Linked DNA regions of Homo sapiens: regions 1 and 2 are each linked to region 3. Evidence: fine-mapped expression QTL. A gene starts in region 3. Each other region holds a variant in brackets. All regions are shown on one strand. Distances are between the middles of the regions. Region 1 overlaps CHLSN (cholesin). Region 2 overlaps CHLSN (cholesin). Region 3 holds the start of CYP2W1 (cytochrome P450 family 2 subfamily W member 1).

Region 1 (7,369 bases), 110 kb after region 3:
CCAGGACCACATCAGACACTAGGACACATCAGACACCAGGTCCCGTATCTTCTCGGTGTCTGGCAACGATCAAAAGACTCAATTTACATGGGAAAGAAATGAATGACTCGTTTTTAAACTATTTTTCCCTTGGAGTTCATTTAACAAAATTAGGAAAGAAAATAAACGTTAAGTTGAGGGTTCTGCCCACCTTTAAACTTCCTGCCACGCCACGGTCTAATACGTTCCAAAATTTCTACATTTAAAGAGCAAAACAAGTCCTCTGTGCCGTTTTTAAGAAATTAAATACAGAGGCGAAATGCGGAGTCTTTCAACCTTCCCGACAGAGCCTGAGAGCAGAGGCATTTATGCTGTTCAATGGTATTATCTACTAAAGATGAATCAAGAGTGCAAAATAACCAAAATCAAATTCACCAGCCCCAGCTAAGTGAAGGTTATTCAGTACTTTTAGAATAACTGACACAGAGGCAGTGATTCATCTTGTCTTCCCCACCCGCCTGTTTTTGAGATGGGGCCTCACTGCAGTAGCTCAGGCTCGAGTGCAGTGGTGTGATCTCGGCTGAGGCTCGAGTGCAGTGGTGTGATCTCGGCTGAGGCTCGAGTGCAGTGGTGTGATCTTGGCTCACTGCAACCTCTACCTGCCAGGCTCAGGCGATCCTCCTGCCTCAGCCTCCCGAGTAGCTGGGACTACAGGCGCACACCACTATGCCCAGCTACTTTTTTTGTCTTTTTTTAGTAGAGACAGGGTTTCGCCATGTTACCCAGGCTGGTCTCGAACTCCTGAACTTGAGCAATCCTCCCACCTCATCTTCCTGAAGTGCTGGGATTATAGGCCAGCCTTTTTTTTTTTTTTTTTTTTAAGTAAGTATTTTCAAGCAATAGGTCAACAAATCTCTAGTCTGGTTTTGCAGCACTTCAAAACAATAACCCCTGGCCCGGCGCGGTGGATCACACCTGTAATCCCAGCACCGTGGGAGGCCAAGGCGGGCAGATCACTACAGGTCAGAAGTTCGATACAAGCCTGGGCAACATGGTAAAACCCCATCTCTACTAAAAATATAAAACATTAGCCAGGCGTGGTGGTGCACACCTATAATCCCAGATACTCAGGAGGCTGAGGCAGGAGAACCACTCTAACCCGGGAGGCGGCAGTTGCAGTGAGCCGAGATTGTGCCACTGCACTCCAACCTGGGTGACCAAAAAAAAAAAACATTCAAAACAATAACTCCTAATGATTTCAAAAGGTAAAATGAAAATTCCCAAAGGAAAAACAACTCAAACCCATTTTGAAGTGTTAGTTTACTCCAGGGCACCAGCACCATCTGGGCCAGGTAATTCTCTGCTGGGCTTGGGCACCTGTCCTAGGCACTGTAGGGAGCTGAGCGGCAGCCCTGGCCCCACCAGCACCCCCCTGTGACTGCCCCCGCATCCCCAGAGACTGCCAGTGTCTGCAGGCTGAGACCCCCGTGGCCCGCTGCATAGAGAACTTCCAGGAGCACAGTGACACGGGGCAGGTGACGGGACCCTCCCCACTGGCGGCAGAGCCGGGGTGACACGGGGCAGGTGACAGGACCTCCCCACTCGCAGCAGGGCCAGGGTGACACGGGGTGGGTGATGGGACCCTCCCCACTGGCGGCAGAGCCGGGGTGACACAGGGCAGGTGATGGGACCCTACCCACTGGCGGCAGAGCCGGGGTGACACGGGGCGGGTGACGGGACCTCTCCACTGGCGGCAGAGCCAGGGTGACACGGGGTGGGTGACGGGACCCTCCCCACTGGCGGCAGAGCCCGGGCACCGCCGTGGGCGGACAGCCCACTTCTCCCTCTCTGCAGAGGATAAGCTCGGGAGGGACTCTCTCCCTGGAGTTTCTTCCTAGGTTACAAACAGCATTGCAAAAACATATTAGGTTTTACAATAATTTGTTAAAACATGAAATAAAAACGTACATATTATTTCCCAAAACAATGACCCCTTTCACTCTATATTACGAAAATAAGTTTATTTTTGGTACCTAGAACACAGAACTAGCATGAGGAAACCGCTGAACTTCTGTTTTATCGTAAGAGAAGATTCTGCTCTGATGTCCAGCTTTCTGGACCCACTCTCTCTCTCTCAGAAACACTGGCTTTCCCTTCCTATCTTACTTCTCCATCAGCTGCTGAAATGCATTTTCCCCTCTCCTCACAAATGCCGTTGTCCTGGGGCGGCCGTGCCCATACCTTCATTGCTTCCTGGGCCTGCTCTGTGGCTATAAAGGGAAAAACACCCCTGCCTGTGGGAGTGACTCACGTCCAGCCTCCAGCTGCAGCTGAGCAGCCGTGGGACCTGCAGGAAAGAAGGCCATGTACTTCCCACAGGCGACTCTTCCACCTCAGCTCAACCACAGCCACCTCCCGAGCTCATAAAGCTGAGGTTCTGGCCCTCCCCAGTGCTCCTGACACACCCAGACTCTACAGACACCCGGCCAGGGGAGCCAGGCCTTGTCCCAAAGCTGGGGCCACTCGATGAGACTTCATCCTCTCCTGTTGCTTCTCCAGGTACCCAGAGAGTGAGCAGCTCCACGCGGGACTGTGCACGGTGGCCGACACCCGCAGGGACGCCCGCCGGACGAGCACGCGGAGGGCCCTCGCCTCCACGGATGCACCATGCCGGTGTGAGGAGCATCTGTTCTTCCCACTCTCTGCAGTTAACAAACCCAACCCAAACCACCACAGGTGCTCCTCCTGGGGAGTTTCCTGTCTGACAAATGCCAGGCTCACTTCAAGGAGAATCACGCTTCTTTCTAAAGATGGATTCACCATTTAAAACAGAGCTCTGGGAGCCTTTCGGCAAATCTTGAAAGCTGCACGGTGCAGAGACATGGATGTGACTTCCCAAGCCCGGGGCGTGGGCCTGGAGATGTACCCAGGCACCGCGCAGCCTGCGGCCCCCAACACCACCTCCCCCGAGCTCAACCTGTCCCACCCGCTCCTGGGCACCGCCCTGGCCAATGGGACAGGTGAGCTCTCGGAGCACCAGCAGTACGTGATCGGCCTGTTCCTCTCGTGCCTCTACACCATCTTCCTCTTCCCCATCGGCTTTGTGGGCAACATCCTGATCCTGGTGGTGAACATCAGCTTCCGCGAGAAGATGACCATCCCCGACCTGTACTTCATCAACCTGGCGGTGGCGGACCTCATCCTGGTGGCCGACTCCCTCATTGAGGTGTTCAACCTGCACGAGCGGTACTACGACATCGCCGTCCTGTGCACCTTCATGTCGCTCTTCCTGCAGGTCAACATGTACAGCAGCGTCTTCTTCCTCACCTGGATGAGCTTCGACCGCTACATCGCCCTGGCCAGGGCCATGCGCTGCAGCCTGTTCCGCACCAAGCACCACGCCCGGCTGAGCTGTGGCCTCATCTGGATGGCATCCGTGTCAGCCACGCTGGTGCCCTTCACCGCCGTGCACCTGCAGCACACCGACGAGGCCTGCTTCTGTTTCGCGGATGTCCGGGAGGTGCAGTGGCTCGAGGTCACGCTGGGCTTCATCGTGCCCTTCGCCATCATCGGCCTGTGCTACTCCCTCATTGTCCGGGTGCTGGTCAGGGCGCACCGGCACCGTGGGCTGCGGCCCCGGCGGCAGAAGGCGCTCCGCATGATCCTCGCGGTGGTGCTGGTCTTCTTCGTCTGCTGGCTGCCGGAGAACGTCTTCATCAGCGTGCACCTCCTGCAGCGGACGCAGCCTGGGGCCGCTCCCTGCAAGCAGTCTTTCCGCCATGCCCACCCCCTCACGGGCCACATTGTCAACCTCGCCGCCTTCTCCAACAGCTGCCTAAACCCCCTCATCTACAGCTTTCTCGGGGAGACCTTCAGGGACAAGCTGAGGCTGTACATTGAGCAGAAAACAAATTTGCCGGCCCTGAACCGCTTCTGTCACGCTGCCCTGAAGGCCGTCATTCCAGACAGCACCGAGCAGTCGGATGTGAGGTTCAGCAGTGCCGTGTAGACAGCCTTGGCCGCATAGGCCCAGCCAGGGTGTGACTCGGGAGCTGCACACACCTGGGTGGACACAAGGCACGGCCACGTCATGTCTCTAAACTGCGGTCAGATGTGGCTTCTGGCTCCTCGGGGCCTCGCGAGGGTCACGCTTGCCTGGTCACCCTGGGGCTGCTTAGGAAACCTCACGACTGGTCACCTTGCACTCCTCACACAGAATTGCTACAATCCCAAAGCGCTCGCCCCGCAGGGTCCAAAGGCCAGC[G/A]GTGACCAGCCTGTCACCCAGCTCCTCCCCGCCAACCCTGCCTGCCGCTGCACCTGCCTGCCGCTGCAGGAAACATTTCTGACACCGTCGACCAGGAAAGCCACACGGAGAGGCCACTGTGGGTGAAGCGCCTCAGTTACACAGGAACCCTAAAGCAAATCTGCCACCGTGGGGGAACTGACGCTGGAGATGCAAGGTGCTGGTGGGTCTGAGCTGGACGTCGCGGTGTGTCCTCTGTGCCCACGGTCTGAGCTAGCTAGCGCACCGCCGAGTTAAAGAGGAGAAGGAAAACATGCTGCTCTGGTGCACGCCTGAGCGTCCTCCATCTTCCAGGATGGCAGCAATGGCGCTGTGCGGCCTCACCAGGCCCACGAGGAGCAGCAGCGCTCGGCCCGGAGCAGCAGGAAGGCCCCTCTGTGGAGCGCCCGCCGTCTGCTCCGGGGTGGTTCAGTCACTGCTTGTTGACATCAACATGGCAATTGCACTCATGTGGACTGGGACCGTGCGAGCTGCCGTGTGGGTTAGTCGGGTGCCAGGACAATGAAATACTCCAGCACCTGTGGCTGACGAATTTGTTTCTACAGAAATAACAGCTGGGGACAACTGCGGTGATGATGTAAAAACCTTCCCATAAAATGTAAGAAAAGCTGATGAGGCTGGTGACGTTCAGCCTTTGTCAATAAACCTGTCATGTGCGGATCCTTCCGGAGGCTCTGTCTTGGGGGTCTGCCAAGTGGGGTGGGACGTGGGGTGGGCATGGGGCACTCGGGAGAATCCCTCCCCCCTCACAGAAAACACAGCCCTCCCCTGCCACCCTGAAAACTCTCACAAGGCCAGCCTCTGAGTCCGGCCAGCCGGACCTAACCTGGCATTTCCAGGCTGTCCAAAATGCCGTGGGGGCACTTCTGTGTCATGCTTGGGTGCCATGACAAGCTTCCCATGAATGTAGGAGGCAGGGCTCAGCCTTGTCCAGCAGCCTGTGCGACCTAAGCTGCCTTTCTAGAAGGCTCTCGGCCGCGTGCGAGGCCCAAGAGCTCTGCGGCACCCAAGCGCTCCTGGAGCAGCCGGCCGGGAAGGTTCCTGCTCCTTCTCCCATCACCGGGGCTGGATCCTGGCGCTGCTCCCCTCCTTTCCCGCCTCACCCACCTGGCAGCAGCTGTCCCTGATGTTAACAAGGTGCACCTGAACCAGTGCCTGCTTCTCCGTCTTCACAGAAACCTGCGCAGGGCGTCGGGATGTGTGGGTGAAGGGAACTAGCCACCTGTACTACCCCCTCACTTTTCCTGTGTTTGCGGTTCTGGTCTGTTTAAAAGCTATGATACTGTTTTTTATTTGTGATAACATAAAGTTTGATATGCAAACATATTGAAAGGAAAAGGCCAATTAAAGAAAACATCTGCAAAAGAGCAGGGGGTGAACGGGTGCGGCACAATGAAGACTGAACGCAGCCATGTTGAGTCCAGGAAACTCTCTCCTCCTGTCTGTGGGACATAACACAACCACAGTGAGTCCAGGAAACTCTCTCCTCCCGTCCATGGGACATAACATAACCACACATGAGCCCAGGAAACTCTCTCTCCTCCTGTCTGTGGGACATAACACAACCACAGTGAGCCCAGTAAAACCTCTCTCCTCCCGTCTGTGGGACATGAAGCTGTGTGTCGGTGGGTGTGGGAAGCCTGGGTCTCTCAGGCAGGTGGGGCCTGTATTCTCCATGACCCCAGCACCGTGGTGCTGGGCTCCTCAGGAACAGAGCGCTGCCCAGACCGTGGCCTGCAGGAGCGGCCTCTGTGCCCACTTCTATCAGGATTGCTTTCCTCATAAATGGCTCACCGGGAAGCCTGGGAACAGGGCGGCTCCCACACACTAACAGGTCTCGTGGAAGTGGAGATTGCTGTGGGGTGGCCAAGCCAGAAGCCAGGCTCACGTGTGGCACAGTCCTGCAGAACACCGTGCGTGGCTTGAGCCACGACTCAGGCCCGGCGCACCCCTCCCTCTGCCCTTCCAGAGCCTGCCCTGCAAGTCACCCCAGCTAAAAGGACATGGCCATCACACTGACATCCGTGCTCTGGAGCTCCTTCCAGGCCCCAGGGACGAGACTTGCCCTCCTCCCCAGGGATGTACTCGCTCAATGCCCAGGACAGCCAGGCAGCAGCCCCCCAAACCCCCACCCCCCACACCTGGGCGCTGTCTTTACAACAATACCCAGGACAGTCACGCAGCAGCCCCCAAACCCCCCTCCCCGACACCCGGGCACTCTCTTTACAAGATGCATGCTTCAATGAAGCTCCCCTTTTGACCTCAGTGTTGCTGATGGGGAAAAACCATCCAAGTCCCAGAAAGCAGGCGGGGTGGGTGCTCTACCACCAGGCACCCAACTACCTGTCAGGCATTCCCCACACACAGTCCCGTTCACATAGCTTCAACAGGGGCAAGGGCAGACGCTTTAAAATACGCAGACGAGAGACCCAGCATTTCTGACTTCCAGTTCTGACGAGCTGACGTGGGGAGACCCACACGGAACGTGGTCTGGTCCCCACCCCTCACAGCAGCCCCGTGGGGTAAGCGCTGTCCCCACCACACCAAGGAGGCACTAGAAGGGTCAGTCACTGCTCGAAGCCTTAAATGGTGGGTGACACAGCCAGGAATTCAGCCACGCTCTCCTGGCTCAAAGCCCACAAGCTCTGTAGCACTCGGCAACCCCTGGCGTCTAACTGGCAAAAGCACGCCATGCAGAAATCATACAGGGCTGGGGGCCATGGGCATCGAGGGGTCACCCAAGGTCACCAGCCCAACCTCCTCTAAAGCCTGCTGTGCGGGAAGTGCAGGGACGGCAGCAGCGGCAGCGGGGAGGGCTCCCTTAAGGTGATCTGGGTGGGAACTGCGTCTGAACAGAGCCCCAGGCATCAATCAGGGACGGGACTCAACTCATTCCTCCACGTCAACCCACCACAGGGAACAGTGCTGACTGTGGCGTCCTTCCCTCCCTGCCACAGACGCGGCTTCCATCCTGCCCGCACCAGACACCGCTGTTGAGTGCGTGGAAGCGTCACGCCGCCCCACTACGCCGCTCCTCTCCGCCAGGTCTCTTCTGGGGACTTGCCCAAGGCTCTGGGCAGACAGAGC
Region 2 (7,369 bases), 26 kb after region 3:
AGTGTCGCCTGTGGCTCCCACGGCACTGGGCGAGGCCTCCTGAGTGATGGCCGCCTCTGCCACCCACCCTGGGGACTGGTCCCTGCGCAACTGCAGACAGTTCACAGGATGCCTGACACAATCCTCTTTCTCTCTGCCTAGGTGGGGCAGCAGACAGGAGATCCCATCTTGGAAAAGGAAAGAGAGCAGTCAGAGGGAAGTCCCTTGTCCCCAGCATAGCGGGGGCCACGGCCACTGCAGGGTCATCTGTCCAGAGCTGCCTAGAGCGTCCCAGAGAGAAGAACCTCCTCCCCTGTGGTACTCACCAGCTGGGTGGAGAACCAGAGTCCCTGCTAGCCTACTGGGCTTTAAAAAAAAGCAGGGGCGGCTGGGAACAGTGGCTCATGCCTGTAAGCTGAGCACTTTGGGAGGCCGAGGGCGGATCACAAGGTCAGGAGACTAAGACCATCTTGGTTAATACGGTGAAACCCTGTCTCTACTAAAAATACAAAAAATTAGCCGGGCGTGGTGTCGGATGCCTGTAATCTCAGCTACTCAGGAGGCTGAGGCAGGAGAATCGCTTGAACCTGGGAAGCAGAGGTTGCAGTGAGCCGAGATTGCACCACTGCACTCCAGCCTGGCGACAGAGTGAGACTCCATCTCAAAACAAACAAATCAACCCACAAAAAGCGGGGACTTCTTGCTGAACCCCCTTCCAAAAGAAAACTGAGCGAGGGTCTCTATTGAGACAGCATCTGAAGCCGGCCCGCAGCCACAGCGTCCACGTGCTCGTAACTGCACCAGGAACTGCCAGCCGCGGTGAGCTGACGACCCAATGCCCATGAAGGCCCGAGCGGGGCTGGCGCGGACAGGGGCCGGGTCTCATGGGTTGGCCGCTCCTCCCATACTTGGAGCTGGGCTGTCCCTCGGCAGCGGGGCAGTGGGCCTGGGTAGGGAAGGACACCCAAGAAGTGTCCCCTAAGCTCCGCTGATGGGACAGTTTGGCCTCTGCTCTGGCCTGTCATTCCAGGGTTCCAGGCCCGGAGGCCACGGGGTGCAAGGAAGCTAAGACACCATGCTGTGCTGGGCAACATGGGGACCTGAGGAGGGTGGGCTTGGGCTGCCCCACGGCAGGAGTGACTTGCTCTCGTCCTCCCGCAGGTGAGTGGGGGACCCCGTCCCGGCTGGATCCGTGTGGCCCGGGTCCCAGTTCCTCTCTCTCCTGTGGGGGCACCACCTCCCGCCTCGAGCAGACCCAGGCAGGGGGCCGGCCCCCGAAAATGGTGAGCTAAAGCCTGCAGGGACCAGGGAGGCAGCGGTCACCTCGCCACCTGCCCCCAACGTGAACACCCAGCAGGCGTGTTCTTTTCTTTTTTCAGTTATATGGAAAGTAAATCTTCAATTTCCTGCGTTAAGCATATAAATAAACTCTTTTTTCTCTTTAATGAGGAACAGGCTTGCCCGCTGACAGCCGTGTGCCTCGCTCGTGTAACTACCACAGTGGACCCAGCAACCCAGAGACCCACAGAAAGTGGAGGGACTGCTTCCAGCACTCCCAAACTTCCGCCTATGCAAGGCCAGAGCAACACGGCTCTGAGCTGGAAAAACAGAGCTGGGTGACCAAGCCTGGGGCCCCTGCTGGGAAAACGAGGGGACAGTCACAGCACAGGGAAAGAGCACACGACGGCCACAGTGCAGGGAAAGAGCACACGACGGTCACAGCACAGGGAAAGAGCGCACGACAGCCACAGCGCAGGGAAAGAGCGCACGACGGCCATACTGCAGGGAAAGAGCGCACGACGGCCACAGCGCAGGGAAAGAGCACACGACGGCCACAGCGCAGGGAAAGAGCACACGACGGCCACAGCGCAGGGAAAGAGCGCACGACGGCCATACTGCAGGGAAAGAGCACACGACGGCCACAGCGCAGGGAAAGAGCGCACGACGGCCACAGCGCAGGGAAAGAGCGCACGACGGCCACAGCGCGGGGAAAGAGCGCACGACGGCCACAGCGCGGGGAAAGAGCGCACGACGGCCACAGCGCGGGGAAAGAGCGCACGACGGTCATACTGCAGGGAAAGAGCGCATGACGGTCACAGCGCAGACAAAGAGCGCACGATGGCCACATTGCAGGGAAAGAGCACACGACGGCCACAGCGCAGGGAAAGAGCGCATGACGGCCACAATCCCCCATCCCACCCTCTGGACCCTCCTCTCCCCAGCCCTGCTGCACAGCTCCCACCAGCCCCAGCTTCACACAAAGCCAGGAGCACCCCAGGAAGGCTGCAGAGAAGATGAACCCTTGAGATGCAAGAACAGCCCAGGGTATGGTCACAGGTCACAGGCCAAGGTCACCGTGTGGGGATGCTGCCCAGCCTGCGACCCGGGTTCTAGGGACGGGGCATGAAGACCCCACGGGCGCTGGGTCGACGTGTCTTGGGGGCAGAGCCTTCGGGGGATCTGGAGGGGAGACCCCCAGGGCATCCTGGAATGGGTGGGGTGCCTCCCAGAGAGATGAGAGGAAACTCTCCACCATGAGGGCTCACCAGAACAATCCGGGGTCTCCTCCACACACAGCCCACCTGGCTGCAGATGGCTTTGCCTCCAGGAGGAACCCCTCGTGGAAAGCCCATAAGATGGCCATGGGCCACGGCGGCCAGCATGTCCTTCCTGAGTCCCAGTCCAGGGCCTCTGCAGGGGGAGGACAACTCGGGCACCTACCTTCACCGCTGCCCCTGGGCTGGGGGCTCTGTGGTGGGCCAGCCGTGGCGTGGCCAGTGGTCCCCAGCAGCCCCCAGGCTGAGGACACTCCCCTGTGGGAATCCCCGGGCTCCCTCTCTTTGGAAAACCCTGAGTTGCCAGGGATACCGTGGGCTCCACACATCCACGTGGGCTCTGATCTGGCAGCCAGATGCGGCTGGGCTTGCGGGCACCCTTGGAGACCCCCAGGAAAGAGGAGAAGCTCCTGCCGGGGTGCCCGTGTCTGTGGCTGGCCTCCTGGTGTGTGGATCCCAGGCCTTGGAAGAAGCTCCTGTGGGAAGGGGCTGCTTTGTTTCTGAGAAGTAAGAGTCCCCCCTCCTCCCACACGCAGGACACAGTGCCTCCGCACAGGACTTGCCGCTGGGGGGTTGCGAGTAGCATGAGGGGGCCACGGGAAGGTCCCAGAGGGGGAGAGGAGGGTGAGGCTGAGGACAGGAGCAGGGCATGCTCCCAGGCACTCAGGACCTTCCCGTGGGGTGCTCGGAGGGTGTGTGATCATGGGAGGGGAGTCAGGGCGCCTCCAGGGTGAAGACCAGGGAGTGGCAGCCACGTGGTGGAGCGGATGGTCCCCCCTCTCCTGCCCACGTCCCCAACGTCCCCCTTGTCTAACAGTCCACACTGAGAGCAGCGGAAGGTGCTGGCAGGCCTGGGGAGGAAGGCGGACAAACCCCGCCCACCCCAGGCATCAGGGCAGGTCCAGAACAGCCACGCCCCGAGGCACCTGCCAGTGGAGACAGGCAAGGTGCAGGTGGCACAGCTGCAGGCCCCAGTCGCCCTCTGCCTCCCACAGGGAGCCTACAGTCCATTCCTGCGGCTGGCACCTTCCAGGCCTGTGTCCACCTGCTCTGCCCAGCCCACACCTTGCCCACACCTGGGCTCGAGACGCTGCACTAACGGCCTCTGAAGCCCTCTCTGTCTACAGCGACTGACCCTGCGGTGGCTTGTGGCCCTGCCTGCAGAGAAGCAGGAGCAAGCGCAGGAGGCAGCAGCCTCACACCACAGCCAGCACCTTGGGTCCCCTGGGCCAAGCGCGTTCTTGGAGCAAGAAAGAGCTCTTGGGGTAGCCCTGGGCACCTGGCCTCAGCCCCACGTTCCTCAGGGAGAGGGAAGCTAAGCCTCCCAGAGAACTGACCAGTGCAGAGACCCATGATGACTCAACT[G/A]GTTCCAGCCGGATCCACCCAACGCTATGGCTGAGCTCATTCTATGACCCCCAAGGCAGCCTCAGCTCCGAGAAACAGGAGGCTTGCCCCCATCCCCATTTCCTGAGCCCGGCGCTGAGCCTGGTGCAGGGCAGCCAAGAGCCCCTCTCCTGTAGGTGGAGGACCGTCCTGGGGATGCACACACAACACACATGTCCACACATAAACACACACGTGCATAAACACACACGCACACACGCACATGTACACACGTGTATACATGTACACACGCACATATACACAACGTGTATACACACGCACACACGTAAACACACGCACACACGTGTACGCAACACTCGTATACACATGCACACACGTACACAACACACGTATACACATGCGCATACATGCACACGCACACCCCCTCATGCGAACACACATGCGTGCACACACACCCATGCGAACACACATACACGCACACACACACACATACACATGCACACACGTACACACATGCACACACGTACACGTGCACGTGCACGCAGCGTGCACATCCACGCAGGCCCCGCTGCTCATTCCGCTAGCTGCACAGCCACACTGGGGGTCATCTCTCCGAGGAGGTCATCTCTCCGAGGGCCTCCCACAGAGGTGCGGCTGGAGCCTGTCCTCCCAGGCAGGGCCAGTGCCCCCACAGGACACCCTGCCCCTCAGGGTGACTTCATCACAGGGACCCAGTTCTTGTCTCTGAGGAAGCCAGCCACGTGGACGCCGTGACACCCCTTATTCTAGGTGCAGTCAGCACTCAGGGAGACGGACAGGAACGGGCAGCAGCCTGTGCTGGTAAGCGCCGGGGAGGTGGCCACAGCCCGCAAGGCTGTGGAGCCCACGCCAAAGCCTCTGACCCCTGCAATCCTGCACCGTCCACCCAGCCACGCCGCAGGCACCATCCACCCAGCCACGCCGCAGGCAGCCAGGGAGATGGCACCCTGTGCCCAGCACCCCACAATCCCCGTCTTCCCGCTCTTGGGTGGCAGTGGCGCCTCCTGTCACTGTGAGTGAGGGCTGAAGGCCACCACGAGTTCCCTCCTCCTCACCCCCACGTCCAAGCAGCACCCAGGCCCGTGGATTCTTCCTGTGGTGACGTACACCTGGGGCAAGGTTCACCATCAGACCCATTTCTAAAAGCACAGTTCCAGGCAACCCCTGCACGGGCAGCGGCTCTGCTGCCGCCCCTGAAAGTTCCTGAAGGCTCTGGGCCATTCAGACAGAAAGGGCAGCGGCGGCAGCACAGGCCTGGCATGAACGCTCATACCTCACTGCTCTAGAACCTTCCACACAGTGTGTGCGAGTGAAGGCTTCGACCCCCTCAGGCAGGGGTTGAGACGCACGTCCGGGACAGAACCGCGTGGGGCAGGGCCGCTCACCTGCAGAGGTAGTCCAGGGCCAGTTCGGCCCCCGAGCGCCTGGCAGGCGGGTGCTGGGCCACAAGGCCTGCCTCCCGCAGACGCTGCCTCTCCTCTTTCTTCCGTTCCTTTTTCAGCTTCCTTTCCAGGACCCTCTGCTCCTCTGGGGACAGCTCTGGCTCTGCGTCCAGCCCGGGCCTGAGCACAGCTTCGCCCTGAAAGTCAAGGAACACATTAGGCTTCGGGGATGGAGGGTATCCAGAGACGGGTGCGCTGCCTGGGGCTTCCCGAGCCCACCCTCACCTCAGTAGTGGCCAAAAGCTCTGTCCCCAAGCACTGGGTCTGGCCCCAGCCGACACCATCCTGCTAAGCCTGTGCTACGACGAAGAGACAGACAGGTCACATGAGGATGGCCAGTCCTGCGGGCAGGCGCCAGGTGCCAGGATTAACTGCCCAGAGGCCCCTTCCCCACCCCCGTGGTCCACCTCCCACAGACTCCCGGCTCCCGAGGCTCTGTGAGGTCCTGCCCCACCCCACACAGTGTGGGAAGATCCGGGCCGGCCCCCAGGGAGGGCTGAAGGTGTGCTGGTGTCTGTTATCACACAGGCCAGGTGCTGGCCCCAGACCCGACCCAAATCCCGAGGACGGTGCCTGGGGCCTGCTGCTTTCTGGCAGGTCACTGGCTGCCTGGCTCCCCCTGGGCTGCAGGCTGGGGACAGGGAGGGGGCCAAGACCCCCAAGGGAGGGAGAGGGCCCGCTGTGACAATGTGTCCCCAGCCACATCTTGCCAGGAAAGCACAGGCCCTCCGTCTTGCCCACCCTCCCCTCATTAACAAAAGAAGAGGACGGTGCAAAGCGTCAAAGCCGGGGCAGCCGGGCCACGGGGTGACCATGAGGTGACCCCAGCCGCTGTCCACATGCTTCGTCTTTTTTGGAAAAGTCAGAACATCAGTGTAGACTCCGAGCAAGGCCAGGAGCCCAGGGAAACAGCTAGGGGCGTGGGAATCAACCAGGCAGCGCCCACCGGGAGCTTCCAGGAAGGGAGGCCGGGCACAGCCCACGCCTACGCATCCCACCCCAGGGAGAGCAAAGAAGAGTGAGGCAAGCCCCCCTACATACAGATATATATGCAACCCACCCCCCCGACACAGACACACACATTCACAGACTTCACCCCTACAGCCAAACACAGCCCCCAACCCTCACCCATGTACCCACACCGACCCACACCCACCCACACCCACCATACACCCACACTCACCCACCCACACCCACAGACACGGACACATACCCACACCCACAGACACCCACATACCCACCCACCCATACCCAACACACCCACACCCAGATACCCACACATAGACCAACACCCACACGCCCAGACACCCCCACATGCCACACACCCACATACAACCACACACACCGACACCCACACACATCCAACAAATCCACAGACACCCAGACACCCACAGATACCCAAACACCCACAGACACCCAGAAACACCCACACACCCAAACACGCCCACAGACACCCAGACACACCCACACCCAGACACACCTTCACACGCCCAGACACCCTGACACACCCACACCCAGACACCTGCAGACACCCACAAACACCCAGATACCCAAACACACCCAAACACATCCACACACCATCCCAACATACCCACAGCCACACACGCCCACACCCAGATACACACCCAGACACCCACAAACACCCAGATACCCAAACACACCCAGAGACACCCACAGATGCCCACACACCCAGACACCCACAGATACCCACACACGCCCACAGACACCCACAAACACCATACACACACGCCAACACACCCACAGCCACACCCCTAGAGCCTGCCAGGGGTCCGCAGCAAGAGACAGGGCCTGGGGGACGAGGAGCACCGTCCCTGGCAGATGCCTGGCACAGAGAGGCTGAAGAGTCCCGGTGGGAAGGCCTGGGCCGCCCACACACACAGGCAGGAAGCTCTGAGACCCACCAGGCCAGGCACGCAGGGCTCTGGGGAGCAAGATTTTCATGGTGGGGATGTGGACACCCCCAGGGGAGCCTGGTGACTGACCGGCTCC
Region 3 (6,819 bases):
TCATGTGGAAGCCTGGCCACGGTTCCGTGGGCCTGGGTTCCCCTCCACATGGGCCCCTCTACGAGCTGCTGGGCTTCCCCACAGCATGGCGGCTGGGTCCACGGCACAGGTGTCCTGGGGAACCAAGAGGAAGCTGCATCACTGTTTGGGATCCAGCCTCCACTGTGACCACAAGTGCCCACCCAGATTCAAGGAGTCAACTAAAGGAAAATTTTGCTTTCGAAGAAGTAAAGTTAGTTTTATTCAGATTCCTATTGAGCATTGCAATCCGGGAGGGTGTTTCAGAGTTTCAGTTCGACTGCTCCAAAGCAATGTTTCGGGCCTCAGCTTATCAACGGGTGGCGGAGGCTCTGCACCTGCTCAGGGGGTACCTTAGAGCCAAATGCGATCGTCAAAGTTTCGGTGCAAGAGTCCATCTCGTCATAGATTACAGCCACTGATCCTGTCAGACGTTATCTTATGTGCAGGAGGAGACAAGGGCTAGGATCGTTGACCTTATCTTTTTAAAAAACGCAGTGATTTGGCCGGGTGTGGTGGCTCACACCTATAATCCCAGCACTTTGGGTGGCCACGGTGGGCGGATCATCTGAGGTTAGGAGTTCAAGACCAGCCTGGCCAACATGGTGAAACCCCGTCTCTACTAAAAATACAAAAATTAGCCGGGCGTGGTGGTGAGTGCCTGTAGTCCCAGCTACTCGGGAGGCTGAGGCAGGAGAATCGCTTGAACCTGGGAGGCGGAGGTTGCAGTGAACTCCAGCCTGGGCAACAGAGAGGGAAACTCCGTCTCAAAAAAAAAAAAATGCAGGGATTCAAGCAAGAGCCGTGGGCACCTGCGCCATGCCTGCTCAGTCTCTGGGACATTCTTCCAGGGGGCGCGCCCAGTCACTGAGGCAGGGCGCACACTTTTTTCCGCACAGTTGCAAGGATGCCTTAAACTAAATTTCTGGAAACCGGGTCACTGAGCCAAGGGACAGTTCCTTTTTGATGTCTGGTGGATCTCTAGTACACTGCAAAAGCGTCCCGTGAAACTCCACTGGTGGAATGAGCAAACACGGCTTCTGGCCTCTGCTACTTTGTGTCACAAAGGGGGAAGACCACAAGCCCTCCTGTGGAGGGAGAAGCGCAGTGTTACGTTACGCAAAGACAGTGTGGTTGGGAGAATCTGTGCGGCCATCTCTGGAAGCCGCCATCTGCCACAGCCGACAGGTGCGGGCCTGAGTTTGGAACCAGGTCTGTCTGACTCCAGCCCCTCCGGGGGAGCCCACCTACCCACCCACCTCACCCACCCTGCCTCTGATGTCAGGGGCAGGCAGGACCTGAGCCAGCCAATCACAGCACTGCATTCCTCCTGGTCACAGAGATGGCTCAGGCCTGAGTATCTGTCTGGCAGGCCTGGACCAATCAGGTCTGATCAGAACAGTCCCAAGTTCCACTTGAGCAGCCAGGCTGCAGTTGGCACACGTCTCTGCAGGGCGCTGGAGGTCCACCGGACATCAGAAAGCAACAATGCCTTGGCTCAGCCACCTGGTTTCTAGGAATTTATTTTAAGATATCCTTGCAACTGTGCCCATCCTTGCAAGTATGCACACAGATATTTTTATCAGGATGTTCTGTGACAGCCTAAGATTGGAAACAATGTAAATATGCAAATATGCACACCCGGCCATGCCCCCCAGAGCAAGCAACACGTACAGGCAGCCGTTAGAGGAGTACTGTTAATTCCCCAGTAACAGTTACTTTTTTTTTTTTTTTTTTTTTGAGATGGAGTCTCACTCTGTTGCCCAGGCTGGAGTGCAGTGGTGCCATCTCAGCTCACTGCAAGCTCCGCCTCCCGGGTTCACGCCATTCTCCTGCCTCAGCCTCCTGAGTAGCTGGGACTACAGGCGCCCGCTATCACGCCCGGCTAATTTTTTGTATTTTTAGTAGAGATGGGGTTTTGCCGTGTTAGCCAGGATGGTCTCGATCTCCATCTCCTGACCTCGTGATCCGCCCACCTCAGCCTCCCAAAGTGCTGGGATTACAGGCATAAGCCACTGCGCCTGGCCAACGAGTTACTTTTAAAAGAGGGCTGGGCACTGTGGCTCACGCCTGTAATCCCAGTGCTTTGGGAGGCCAAGGCAGGTGGATCACTTGAGGTCAGGAGCTCGAGATCAGCCTGGCCAACATGGCAAAACCCCATCTCTACTAAAAATACAAAAATTAGCTGAGTGTGGTTGCATATGCCTGTAATCCCAGCTACCCGGGAGGCTGAGGCAGGAGGATCACTTGAACACGGGCGATGGAGGTTGCAGTGAGCCAAGATCATGCCACTGCACTCTAGCCTGGATGACGAGAGTGAGACTCCATCTCAAAAAAAAAAAAAAAGAAAAGAAAAGAAAAAGAGGCCGGCCCGGCATTGGCTCATGCTAGTAATCCCAGCGCTTTTGGAGGCGGCCACAGTAGGATCGCTTGAGCCCAGGAGGAGTTGAAGACCAGCCTCTAGACTCCGTCTCTAAAAGAAACTTACAAAATTCCCAGCACTTTGGGAGGCCGAGGCGGGCGGATCATGATGAGGTCAAGAGATCGAGACTGTCCTGGCCAACATGGTGAAACCCCGTCTCTACTAAAGATACAAAAAGTAGCCAGGTGTGGTGGCATGTGCCTGTAATCCCAGCTACTCGGGAGGCTGAGGCAGGAGAATCGCTCCAACCCGGGAGGCGGAGGTTGCAGTGAGCCGAGATCACGCCATTGTAGTCCAGCCTGGCAACAGAGTGAGATTCCGTCTCAAAAACAACAAAAACCCAAAACTTAAAAAATTAGGCCAGGTGCAGTGGCTTACACCTGCAATCCCAACACTTTGGGAGGTCGAGGCAGGAGGATTGCTTGAACCCAGGAGTGTGAGACCAGCCTGAGCAACGTAGCAGGACCTCCATTTCTACATAAATAAATAAATAAAGTTAGCTAGGCTGGGTGGTGCATGCCTGTAGTCCCAGCTATTTGGGAGGCTGAGGTGGGAGGATGGCTTGAGCCCCGGAGGTGGAGGCTGCAGTGAGCCTGTACTCACAGCACGGTAATCCAGCCTGGGCAACAGAGCAAGACCCTGTCTCAAAAACAAAACACACAAAAATCAAAAGTATTCCCTGAATTAATTAAGTAAGCTTTGCTAGGCAGGTAGGACCCCCAGCCTACCCAGTAGTGGCCCTGGTATGAGGCACTCCCTCCCCGCCGCAGCCGCCCAGCCCTGGCCCTGAGGCTGTACAGCAGGATAGAGGTAGTGAGCTCCCCACCACAGGAGGCGTGCAACTGTGCCTGGGGCTTTCCCTCCCAGCTAATCAAGGGGGACCAACCCGGGAGGGGTGAGGGCCTCAGGCTGCCTCGGCTCTGCGGTTCGTACAGGGCATGGGCAACGCCCCAGAGACAGGCTGTGGGGAGGGTCCCGCCTGCTGGCACCAGCTCCAGCTGCCTCATGTCAGGGCAGGCTGTGCAAAGCAGGCCCGGCCGCTTCTGCTGCCAGCAGCCCTCCCACCCCTCACAGCGGTTTAGGAGACAGATGGACAGGGCTCGTAAACCCCGCCACCTGCCACCCGGCAGCCCTTCCATGTTCCTGTCCTAGCTCAGAGGGTTGCATCCCCTGCCCGGGCGGCAGCCCTCGAAAAGGAGCAGGCTGCTACCTGGGGCGAGAACACCCTCAGGGAGATGCAGGTGGTGGCCTGTGAGGACTGTGGGATTTGAGTCCCCTCATGGGCCTCCCTGAGGTCTCACTCCTGTCCCTTGCCCCGTGGGGAGCTGATCAGAGAAGAGCTGGGTGCACACGGATGGGGTTTGGGAGAGGCCTGCAAACCCTGAGCTCCACAGGGTCCCACTCAGAGCCTGTGAAAGGCAGGGGGCTCCCCTCCAAGCCAGGGCCTCGGCCCCAAAGCCCTGTGAATCCCAGTTCTGAGGGGTGGCCAAGGCCAAGGGGCCTGGACTGGCAGGTTCAGCAGAACCAGGGGCAGAACAGTCCACGTGCCACATCCTTCTCTCTGGCCAGGAGACATGGATGCCTGACCCCAGAGGGCCCCCGTCCTGCCCTCCCCTCCCCGGCCCCACCAGGGCCTCAGCCCCACATTCCACGCAGGCCTGCAGCTTTAAGCCATCCGCTGGGGGCTGCCCTGCAAACTGCTCGTTCCACATTCTCGGGGTGGTGGGGTGGGTGGGGTGCGGGCACGCCCTCCCGCGGAGGCCTATAAGGGTGCGGGGGGGACGGGGCCCAGGAGGGGAGTGGAGCCTCACCAGCCACGTCCTCATGGCCCTGCTGCTCTTGCTGTTCCTGGGCCTCCTGGGGCTCTGGGGGCTGCTCTGCGCCTGCGCCCAAGACCCCTCCCCAGCTGCCCGGTGGCCCCCGGGGCCTCGCCCGCTGCCGCTCGTCGGGAACCTGCACTTGCTGCGTCTGTCGCAACAGGACCGGTCCCTGATGGAGGTAAGTCAGGGAGCCCGGGCAGCTCTTGCCGCTTGGACAGCTGCCGTGTCCTGGCCCCCCTCCTGGGGAAGCCCAGCCCGGTTTCCACTGCCTGTTCCCACATGGTGCCGGGCCCAGCGGGGCACGCAGGAGGCCGGAGGGCCCACCCTGCTTTTGGGAGGGGAAAGCCACCCCGTCCCACAGGGAAGCAGACACACTGAGTACGAAGAAGCCCTGGAGGTGCCACCCAGGGCCCGGCGCGGGAGCAGGAGTCTGGAGGGCTCCCTGGAGGCGGTGGCGTCTGCTGAGAGCCCGCAGGAGGCCAGGCTTAGGGACAGCAGAGGGGAGGAGGGCCTGGGCCTGTCGGCTGCCTGCTCAGCCCCCCTCGGCCCTCAGGTGTTCAACAGCAAACACTTCCCACTTTTGAGCCTCTGTTTCCTCATCTGTGAAATGGGAAGAGGACCTGTGCCTCCTGGGCAGGGATGCTGAGGACAGAGGGTACGGGGACACGGCACGGGGCAGCCTGACTAGCACTGTCGCTCTGTCCTCGCTCAGGCAGGCAGGGTCAGTGGGACAGGGCTGACCAGTCAGGCCCGGGCCCTGCCTCCGGCTGCCCCCAACTGCGGGCTGGGGTGCTGCTGGCCGGGCTGTAGCCGAAGACGGATCAGGGTCTCTGGGGGCCGAGCCTGTCAGGCCCTCACTCTGTGCAGACTCTGGCCTTTCAGAATGTGCCACCCCAGCAGACAGCCAGCCCCCGACCTTGCCGCCTGGACTCAGGGCTTGAGCCCCCCAGGAATTTTGGCTAAAAAGAAAATCCCACAACAGCCATGCCAAGCACCAGATGGCGAGAGGGCTCTGTGGGCTCCAGGCTGGGCGCTGCCCCCTCCACCCTGCACCACTGGCTTTATGGCATCTAGGCGTGCCCCCTCCACCTGCCCCCATTTTCCCTCTGTCCCCACCCCTACCCAGCACAGGCCCGGCCTGAGGGGACCTAAGGGGGGTCTTGTGGGTGAGGGCTGCCCGGGTGACCCCCGCCATCCCTGCCAGCTCTCAGAACGCTACGGGCCGGTGTTCACCGTGCACCTGGGGCGCCAGAAGACGGTGGTGCTGACGGGGTTCGAGGCGGTCAAAGAGGCGCTGGCGGGCCCCGGGCAGGAGCTGGCCGACCGGCCTCCCATCGCCATCTTCCAGCTCATCCAGCGAGGTGGAGGTCGGTGTGTGGCCGGCGCTACGGGGCCTACTGGGTGTGGGGGCACCTGGACCCCAGGAGGGGTGGGGGCTCCAGCAGCGGGAGAGGCTCCCAGGGTGGCCTGGGGAAGAGCAGGCAGGAGCTGGGCCTCCGGGCTGGTGCTGAGAAGGGCCAGGTGTCCACACAGCAGGTCAGGTGCTCAGAACCAGCAAGCGGGGTTCTTTTCATCCCAAGTCAAGAGGGGCCAGGGCCAGCCCAGGGGGACGGGAGTGGGGATGGGGGTGAGGGCCCAGCCAGTCTCGCTGCCCTGTCAGCCTGCTCACTTCCTGCCCACTTGCCTGGCGGGGCTGGCTGGGGTGGGAACCTGGGCTCACCACGCACTGTATCTGCCTACAGGCATCTTCTTCTCATCTGGGGCGCGCTGGAGGGCTGCCCGCCAGTTCACGGTGCGTGCCCTGCACAGCCTGGGCGTGGGCCGGGAGCCGGTGGCTGACAAGATTCTGCAGGAGCTGAAATGCCTCTCTGGGCAGCTGGATGGCTACAGAGGTGAGCAGGGGGCCGGGGACGCCCCTCCCCGGGCCTGGACGTGCCTGAGGCCCGTCTCCCTCGCAGGCCGGCCCTTCCCGCTGGCCCTACTGGGCTGGGCTCCCTCCAATATCACCTTCGCGCTCCTCTTCGGCCGCCGATTTGACTACCGGGACCCCGTGTTTGTGTCCCTGCTGGGTCTCATCGATGAGGTCATGGTCCTCTTGGGGTCCCCTGGCCTGCAGGTGAGGAGCTGCCTCCCATCCTTGGGGTGGGGTGGAGCCTGGAGTGATGGGCGTGCAGCAGGAGGACGGGGGCCCCAGTGCTGTCCCCTCTCAGCTTCTCGGCCCTCCCACCTTGCAAAAGGAATCAGATGCAAGGGCCTGAATCAGGACCCATCCGACGTTAGCTGGTCATGTGGCCTCAAACCAGCCCCTGTGCTCTCCAGGAAATGGGGGATCCCCATCTCCCCCACGCCCTCATCAGTAACAGATGCATCTGCTCAAGAGTGGAGGTGGGAGGCAGGCATGGCTTCCCCAGAATTGCGGGGGGCTCCATGTCTGCCCCCCAAGCCCTGACAGTCCAGGCACCTTCCTGCTGACGCCCTTTACAGTGCCCCAAAACCACAAAAGTTCACCCCTCTGATGTTTGGAACTCGTGTATTTCATTTAGCTTCAAAATGTAAAGA

The links. PIP is the estimated chance that this variant, and not a neighbour inherited with it, causes the effect.
Region 1: its variant is the best candidate, but not a certain one, in a credible set for the expression of CYP2W1 in testis (GTEx, PIP 0.58).
Region 2: its variant is the best candidate, but not a certain one, in a credible set for the expression of CYP2W1 in thyroid (GTEx, PIP 0.58).

The regions. Positions count from the first base shown.
Region 1 is chr7:1,088,869-1,096,237 of GRCh38, forward strand. All of the region lies in intron 2 of CHLSN (cholesin), which reads right to left. GPER1 (G protein-coupled estrogen receptor 1) reads left to right here. Exons shown (of 2, transcript NM_001098201.3): 2 at 2,539-4,942. The coding sequence starts at 2,861. The coding sequence ends at 3,988. Among named protein-coding and RNA genes, the nearest start is that of GPER1, 4.4 kb to the left of the region's middle. RefSeq lists an enhancer at 6,625-7,334. The variant G/A (reference allele first, on the strand shown) is at 4,244.
Region 2 is chr7:1,004,648-1,012,016 of GRCh38, forward strand. CHLSN (cholesin) reads right to left here. Exons shown (of 5, transcript NM_001318252.2): 3 at 5,303-5,496. LOC124901570 (a long non-coding RNA gene) reads left to right here. Exons shown (of 3, transcript XR_007060184.1): 2 at 142-798; 3 at 1,141-1,424. Among named protein-coding and RNA genes, the nearest start is that of MIR339, 15 kb to the right of the region's middle. The variant G/A (reference allele first, on the strand shown) is at 3,900.
Region 3 is chr7:978,948-985,766 of GRCh38, forward strand. It overlaps CYP2W1 (cytochrome P450 family 2 subfamily W member 1), which reads left to right and starts at 4,234. Exons shown (of 9, transcript NM_017781.3): 1 at 4,234-4,438; 2 at 5,465-5,627; 3 at 6,003-6,152; 4 at 6,219-6,376. The coding sequence starts at 4,265. It also overlaps a transcript of CHLSN not described here.